Linked DNA regions of Homo sapiens. Each later gene encodes a partner of the first gene's protein in a complex. Links are inferred from orthologs where the notes say so. Each region holds a gene or a part of one and is shown on either strand. Other genes may lie near its edges. The genes, in order: NR5A1 and NR0B2.

Region 1 (3,908 bases):
GTGTGGCCTGGCGGAAGCGCTCAGTGGCGCCCCTCTGGGGAGATCTGGGGCGAACCCCTTCTGCTCGCTAGCCTCAGGTCGCTGGGCTGGAAATGGGACTCGTGGAAATCCCATTTTACAAATGTCCGAGGCCTGGGGGGACCCGAAGCCTCTACGGGCGCAGGAGCTGGGAGAGGAGCCCGGAGGCAGGGCCCCGCTGCTCCCCTCGGAGCTCTCACGGGGGGGTGGGGCGAGGAAGAAAGCGCTGGGCGGTCTTGGGGACAAAGGGGTTCCCGGGCCTATGGGCCAAGCAGTTGCTCTGGGCTAGGGACCATCCGCGGGGCCACTGTTTTTCAGCTGGAGAAACGGACCCGAAAGGAAGGGGCCTGCTTGCATCCTGCCTCCGCCCCCGCTGGCACCTGGGGTCAGAGAGAGTTTGGGGACCATGAGGCCAAAAAGCTGCGATCTTCAAGCAGGAAAATACCGCAATTTTGCATTGACAGCGGCGCAACCCACCAAAAGGCTCCATCTGGGCTCCCGCCCGCCTGGAGGCCTCGGGCTTCGGTTGGAGCTGGGCCTGGGGCCTGCAAGTTGTGGCCAGAGAACCCCCCGCGCAGACCGCACTCAGCTGGCTCACCCACAGAAGGAGCAGAACCCGCAGACTAGCTGTGCAAGCTCGGGCAAGTCACTTCTCCTCTCTGAAACGAGAGCCTCAGTTTTCTCCGAGCATAAAGTGGAACATGTTGGCTTTACAGATGGGGTACTGCGGTTTCCATGCAAGAATCTTGGATGAGGAGGGAAGAAAGAGCCAGAGACCCTGTTAATCGTACCCCCCGCACCCCCAAACCCCTGAGAAACAAGAGCATCTGCCCGAGCTGGAGGTGGGGGTCACTGCCGCCTCTGAACAGCTCCCCACCACAATGGAGCCCTCAGACAGTGACTGCAGGAGGGAAGGGGGTTGGTGGATGATGGGCTGGGGTGCCCCAGTTGGCTGTTCTAAGGTAGAGCTCACCCGAGGTCTCCTGGAAACCTGGAGCTGGACACACAGGCCCCAGCCGCCGGGGTTGGGTGGGGGCTGGGCTCAGGCCCTTCTCCCTCTATCTCCAATCCCCTCTCCCCAAGGGTTTCTACTCTCACCGGCTGGAAGCCCATGGCTCCTCTGCACTCCAGGCTCCGAGGCACCCACCCCCACAGGTTCCAGGTTCCAGCCCACCGCCTGGGGAGTTCCAGCCCCTCATCCACCCACCCAGGGAGGGAAGCCTAGACCTGGCCCGGCCGCAGAACCCAGGCTGACAGATGGATGCCGGAGACAGACACACGGATACACAGCAAGACTCAGAGAGAGCCACAGAGACAACACAGAAACTCAGGTGGGGGACAGAGCCCCAAGACAGGCCCAGAGCCCTCCAGACACACTCACAGACCTCTAGGCTCAGACCCACACAGCCTGGTGGATGCCTGGCCAGAGACAGCGGGACACCAGCGGACCTCCATGGGGCTTGTGGTCACAGGCCTGGCTCCTCCCATCGGCAGCCCAGGGAAGAAGAGGGGGTAGCATGGTGGGAGGGTGAGTCTGGGAGACCCCTGGCACCTTCCCTGCCCAGAGCAGGGGGCACCGGTCACTAAGTGGAGCAGGCAGTGGCCGGCCCAGGCTGCAGGGAGGCACTGCAGAAGGAGGCTGGCCATTAGAGGCCTGGGCCAAGGCCCTCACTTACGAAGCGGAAGCAGCGCTCTCACACCGGATGAGGGTGGCAGTGGGCACCAGGGGTCCAGGGGGAGGCTCCGGCAGCCCAGGTGGGACGGTGGCGACTGTGGGTGCGCAGAAACCCCCTCACACCACGGCGGGCGGCAGCCGGACAGCAGGCTGGCCCTGTCCGTCCGTCCTCCTCCTCCTCCCCGCCCTGGTGGGGGGGCCACCGGAGGCCCAATTGGTCTCTGCCCCCACGTGACTCTGCAGGCCTCTCGCCTTCTTTGTTGGTGTTTCTCTTCATTTACGTCTATTTTTTCTTCTTCTCCTAAAAGAAAAAAAATACCCCTATCTATCTGGGGGCTGAGGGTGGGGGCGGAGGCCAAGGCACTGCAGAGGCCTTGGCCAGCTGGCTGTTCCAGGCCCGCTGTGGGAGCCCAGAGGCAGGGACCCCACAGAGGCGGGTAGGCAGCCCCGCTTGTTAGAAACCGGGTGGGAGTGGGGCTTGATTTATGGGCTGCTCCCCCACCCGGCCTGCCGCCTGCTCCTCTCTCCTTGTGAATGGCTACCTCCCTGGGGCCTGGCCTGGCATGGTCTGGCCCAGCCCGGACATTGGAGTAGAGTCAGGACAGGCCAGTGCGGAGGCAAGGCCATGGCGACTTGACTAGGCGGCCTGCTGCTTCCACCTCTTTTTCCTCTTCCATCAGGTGGAAGAAGAGGGGGGCCGGAAGGGGAGCAGGTGAGCGGCCTGGACACCTGGTGCGTGCATGCCACGGTGGCCTCTGAATGTCCTCATCTGCTGTGGGCTGCTGATGTTCCCAGTCGATGGCTGGAAAAACTGAGGCTGGGCTGAGACTGCCTCTGAGGCCAAGTGGTGGCTATAGTGGCCCCAGGTTGAACCAAGTATGAAGCTAGTCCAGGATAGGACAGGGTAGCAGGAAGGGGCCCTTATCTAGAAGGCTAGGCCTCCCTAGACAACCTGGGACGTCCCCATCCAATCTCTGGGCCCAGATGGGCTCTGAAATATCCTGTTCCTGTAGGGCCCGGGTTGCAGGGTGTTGTGCCGCTCCCACGGTGACTGGATCTTTTGTGTGTTCCTCTGTTTGTCTCACATTTACTGAGCGCACACTTAGGGGTCAGGCACTGTTCCAGGCACCAGGGATCCCATAGGAAAGAGAAGAAAAGTCTCTGTCCTCAGAGGATTTACCTCCGTGCCTTTCATCTTGGGAGAGCAGGGAGGGGCACAGGGTGACTATGGGGCAGTCACTGTTGAGAACCACCCCTCCTCCCACATATCCCTTCATTGGAGGAAATAAATAAATCACACCCAACACCTCACTTATCTGGAACAAGAGGGACTTTTCTGGATAAGTGAAGTGAAGCCAACTCTCCCTATATATATTTTTTCATGGAAGGCCACTGAAAAAGTAGAAACGCCAACTATATTTAAAACCTATGTGTTTTCCAGCCAGTCACTGTGGCTCATGCCTGTAATCCCAGCACTTTGGGAGGCCAAGGTGGGCGGATCACCTGAGGTCAAGAAGTTCAAGACAAGCCTGGCCAACATGGCAAAACGCCATCTCTACTAAAAAATAGAAAAATTCACCTGGTGTGGTGGCTTGTGCCTGTAGTCCCAGCTACTTGGGAAGCTGAGGCAGGAGGATCGCTTGAACCTGGGAGGCAGAGGTTGCAGTGAGCCAAGATTGTGCTACTGCAGTCCAGCCTGGGCGACAGAGTGAGACTCCGTCTCAAATAAAATAAAATAAAATAAAATAAAATAAAATAAAATAAAATAAAACCTAGTGTGTGTTTTCCTCATTATGCCACTTAAAATTGTGTGTGAACATACAACAATAATACTGATAGACTGTAGTCCCGGCTACTCGGGAGGCTGAGGCAGGAGGATGGTTTGAACCCAGGAGTTGGAGCTGCAGTGAGCTATGATTGTGCCACTGCACTCTAGCCCGGGCAATAGGGTTTTAATAATTAATAATCATTAATTCAATAATAATAATTTTTATAATATAATTTCACCAACAGTCATAGCTAACTGATCGAATATATTCCACCTACAACGTAACAGACAACTTATTCCTCAATGTGCATGACCTTGTAATTATGTCTTTTTCACCTAGAGAAGTTCTTACAAGATATACTTCTCTTGCATATGGCTGAACCTAACTAGTCTCCCTATTTTAATATTCTTTTTTTAGTGTCCCTATTTTGTTTTATGTCTTTTGAG
Region 2 (3,908 bases), on another chromosome or scaffold:
TTGTCACTGTTTTAAAAATGAGGAAACTGAGGCACAGAAAGAGAAAGTGATTTGCCCAAGGTCACTCAGCTAAGTGAAGCAGGATTTGAACCCAGCCAGTCTGACTCCAGAGTCTGCTTCAAGGGGACACTGTGAGAATTCAGTGAGATTTAAAAACATGAAAGGAACTTTATAAATTTAAGGATTAAGACTAATAATCAAATGAAAGAGGTGTGCCTGTTTGTCCACTGGTGCTCAGCTCCACAGAGGAAAGGGGCAGAAAAATCCTCCTACCGTATGCCAGAAACCACTTGGAATTTAACAACCAGGACCTCATTTTGTCCCCATGGCAGCCCTACAGCCAGGCATTATTGTCCCAGGGAGGCTTATCGAGGTTCAAGGATCAACCCAAGTCACATAACCAAAAAGTGATGGATTCTGGAGCAGATGCCAGGGCTAGTGATGCCAGAGCCTCTCTCTCCCCATCCAGGGCACCAGGCTGCCCAACAGCATGCAGCAGAAGGCTTGCCACACTGGACTGGCCAAGGTCCAGGAACATGACACAACCAAGGGCCTCTCCACCTTCTCTCATCCCCTGTGCTCCACCATCTGAGAAAGATGCCCGGGACAGAGGAGCCACGTGGCAGCAGAGCAACACTTCTGCCCAGATCACAAGTGGGCAACGTCTGCAAAGCAGGCAGCAGCAAGGTGGGGGCAGCTAGCCACAAGCTCTGAGAATCTCAGGCTCTGGCTGTGCAATTGGGCCAGTGGGTCCAGGGAAACAAACAAGGACTTTGGAGTCAGGCAAGATCTGGGCTTTGTCTTCCTGGTGGGATGACCTTGGGCAAGTCACTTTAGCTTTTTTAGTCTCATAAAGTAAGAATCTAGCCTTAGGAAGAGGCTGCCAATATTAGAGTGGGAAGTGCCTGACACATAATAAGTGCTTAGAGAATGGCAACCATATATATACATATATATATATATATATGTATGTATGTATGTGTATATATATATACACATATACATATAAATATACATATACATATACATATACATATACATATACATATATATTTTTTTGAGACAGGATCTTGCTCTGTTGCCCAGGCTGGAGAGCAGTGGCATGATCTCAGCTCACTGTAACCTCTGCCTCCCAGTTTCGAGTGATTCTTTTGCCTTAGCCTCTAGAGTAGCTGGGACTACAGGCACATGCCACCATGCCCGGCTAATTTTTGTATTTTTAGTAGAGACGGGATTTTGCCATGTTGGCCAGGCTGGTCTTGAACTCCTGACCTCAAATGATCCCCCTTCCTCAGCCTCCCAAAGTGCTGGGATTACAGGCATGAGCCACCGTGCCCGGCTGGCAACTATCTTTTATTATAATTCTGTGAGTTCTTCTCAGCAGACCTGGCCTTTCAGGAGTGGTAGGAATCAGGCTGGGGATAAGGATTCTGAAGGACCTTATTCCTGCAGGGGGCCCAGAACTGGAATCAGAGGAGGAGGCCTCCTAGATTGGACAGTGGGCAAAGTCCTCCCAGCCCCCAGGGTCCTGGCTCCCTTCCCTGTAGCCTGCTTCTGGCTGACAACAGAAGCAGGGCCCCAAGGTTAGGCAAACAAGCTAGTGATAAGGCACTTCCAGGTTGGGCCTTGCATTCAAGGCCCACCCAGCTCTGGGGCTGGCTTCCTGGCTTAGCAAAAGCCCTAGTCTTTTGTGCACACAAGAGCGGGCACCAATGGGGACACCTGCTGATTGTGCACCTGGGGCCTTGGTGCCCTGGTACAGCCTGAGTTAATGACCTTGTTTATCCACTTGAGTCATCTGATAAGGGGCAGCTGAGTGAGCGGCAGGTGGCCCTGTGCCCTGCACCGGCCACTTCATTGACTGAGGTGATATCAGTGCCACGTGGGGTTCCCAATGCCCCCTCCCCCACCACTTCCCCACCATTCCTGCCAGGGGCAATGTCTGTGTGTTTTTTTCAATGAACATGACTTCTGGAGTCAAGGTTGTTGGGCCATTCCCCCCGTTCCACTCACTGGGAATATAAATAGCACCCACAGCGCAGAACACAGAGCCAGAGAGCTGGAAGTGAGAGCAGATCCCTAACCATGAGCACCAGCCAACCAGGGGCCTGCCCATGCCAGGGAGCTGCAAGCCGCCCCGCCATTCTCTACGCACTTCTGAGCTCCAGCCTCAAGGCTGTCCCCCGACCCCGTAGCCGCTGCCTATGTAGGCAGCACCGGCCCGTCCAGCTATGTGCACCTCATCGCACCTGCCGGGAGGCCTTGGATGTTCTGGCCAAGACAGTGGCCTTCCTCAGGAACCTGCCATCCTTCTGGCAGCTGCCTCCCCAGGACCAGCGGCGGCTGCTGCAGGGTTGCTGGGGCCCCCTCTTCCTGCTTGGGTTGGCCCAAGATGCTGTGACCTTTGAGGTGGCTGAGGCCCCGGTGCCCAGCATACTCAAGAAGATTCTGCTGGAGGAGCCCAGCAGCAGTGGAGGCAGTGGCCAACTGCCAGACAGACCCCAGCCCTCCCTGGCTGCGGTGCAGTGGCTTCAATGCTGTCTGGAGTCCTTCTGGAGCCTGGAGCTTAGCCCCAAGGAATATGCCTGCCTGAAAGGGACCATCCTCTTCAACCCCGGTGAGCTCCCAGACACTCCTGGGTGGGGGGCAAGGCTGAAGCAGGGGCCAGCCAGGGAAGGTAGCTTCTAAGGGTTTGATATCTGTTATCTCATTGGGTCCTCATTTTCTTTTTATTTTTCTGAGACAGAGTCTCACTCTGTCACCCAGTCTGGAGTGCAGTGGTGCGATCTTGGCTCACTGCAACCTCTGCCTCCTGGGTTCAAGCAATTTTCTCTGCCTCAGCCTCCCGAGTAGCTGGGATTACAGATGGCCGCCACCACTCCCGGCTAATTTTTGTACTTTTTAGTAGAGATGGGCTTTCACCATGTTGATCAAGCTGGTCTTGAACTCCTAACCCCTCAGGTGATCCACCCACCTTGGCCTCCCAAAGTGCTGGGATTACAGGCGTGAGCCACCGTGCTTGGCCAGTCCTCATTTTCATCAAATAGCCATCTCACAGAAGAGGCACAGAGAAGCTAAGTGACTAGCTAAAGGTAACACAGCCAGGTAGGGACAGACCAGGATGGCAACTCAGGTCTATTCACTCCAGAGACTGGCCCTTGCCACTCTGCCTGAGAAATTTGCTCTGACCTTTACAGAAGGCTGTGGGGAGGTGGGGTGGGCAGACACAGCTGTGTCTCAGTCACATCCTCAAAGGAAGGCTGCATGGTGAAGCTCTAGAGCTAAAACTCCTCTGTGGGTTCAGAAAGATCACATAGAAGAGATGACTGAAAGGGGCGTAGGGAGGACAGGAAAGGAGTCTTTATGGAATTCGGCCAGGAGAGCGGCAGATGGAGACAGTGCTGTTTGTAATCTGGAGAGCATCTGAGATGAGAGTTCCCCAGGAGTCCCTTGTGGCACGCATAAATCGTAGTAATTAATTGTAATAATAGTAGCAAATACTCATATCACACTTACCATATGTTAGGCCCTATTCTAAGGGTTTTACATATACTAGTTCATTTAAATCTCATAAAAGCCTAGGAGACAGGTCCTATTAATATTATTATTCCCGTTTTACAGATAAAGAAACTGAAGCCCAGAGATTAAGTGACTTGCCCAAGGTCACCCAGCTAATAAGTGACAGTGCTGGGATTCATACCCAGGAAGCCTAATTCTTAACCATTACTCCACACTGCCTCTTCATAAATGGATGGATGAATACATTGAAAATTGATAAATAAATTACCTCCTCTAAAGGAGGAGGTAGTAGTGGGACCTCAAAGGCCGAGCAAAGGAGGCAGAGGGGTGTCTCTGATGGCCCAGATCTTGGGCCAGTCTTGTCCTTTGGTGGCTGGGAGTAGGGTGCT

Evidence for each region.
Region 2: the proteins of NR5A1 (region 1) and NR0B2 are in contact, whole or in part, in a crystal structure (PDB 1YMT), measured with the Mus musculus proteins. The link is inferred for Homo sapiens from one-to-one orthologs. Residues at the interface, in NP_001303616.1 of Mus musculus: Ile275, Val278, Arg282, Phe287, Val292, Gln295, Met296, Leu299, Gln300, Asn450, Leu452, Glu455, Met456; in NP_035980.1 of Mus musculus: Thr19, Ile20, Leu21, Tyr22, Leu24, Leu25, Ser26.

Annotation. Positions count from the first base shown.
Region 1 is NC_000009.12:124,505,555-124,509,462, forward strand, and holds the start of NR5A1 (steroidogenic factor 1), read right to left. Parts: upstream 1,846-3,908; 5' UTR 1,695-1,845; intron 1-1,694. UniProt on the Homo sapiens protein: Transcriptional activator. Essential for sexual differentiation and formation of the primary steroidogenic tissues. Binds to the Ad4 site found in the promoter region of steroidogenic P450 genes such as CYP11A, CYP11B and CYP21B.
Region 2 is NC_000001.11:26,912,118-26,916,025, reverse strand, and holds the start of NR0B2 (nuclear receptor subfamily 0 group B member 2), read left to right. Parts: upstream 1-2,050; 5' UTR 2,051-2,085; coding exon 2,086-2,617; intron 2,618-3,621; coding exon of another isoform or gene 3,622-3,713; exon of another isoform or gene 3,714-3,908. UniProt on the Homo sapiens protein: Transcriptional regulator that acts as a negative regulator of receptor-dependent signaling pathways. Specifically inhibits transactivation of the nuclear receptor with which it interacts.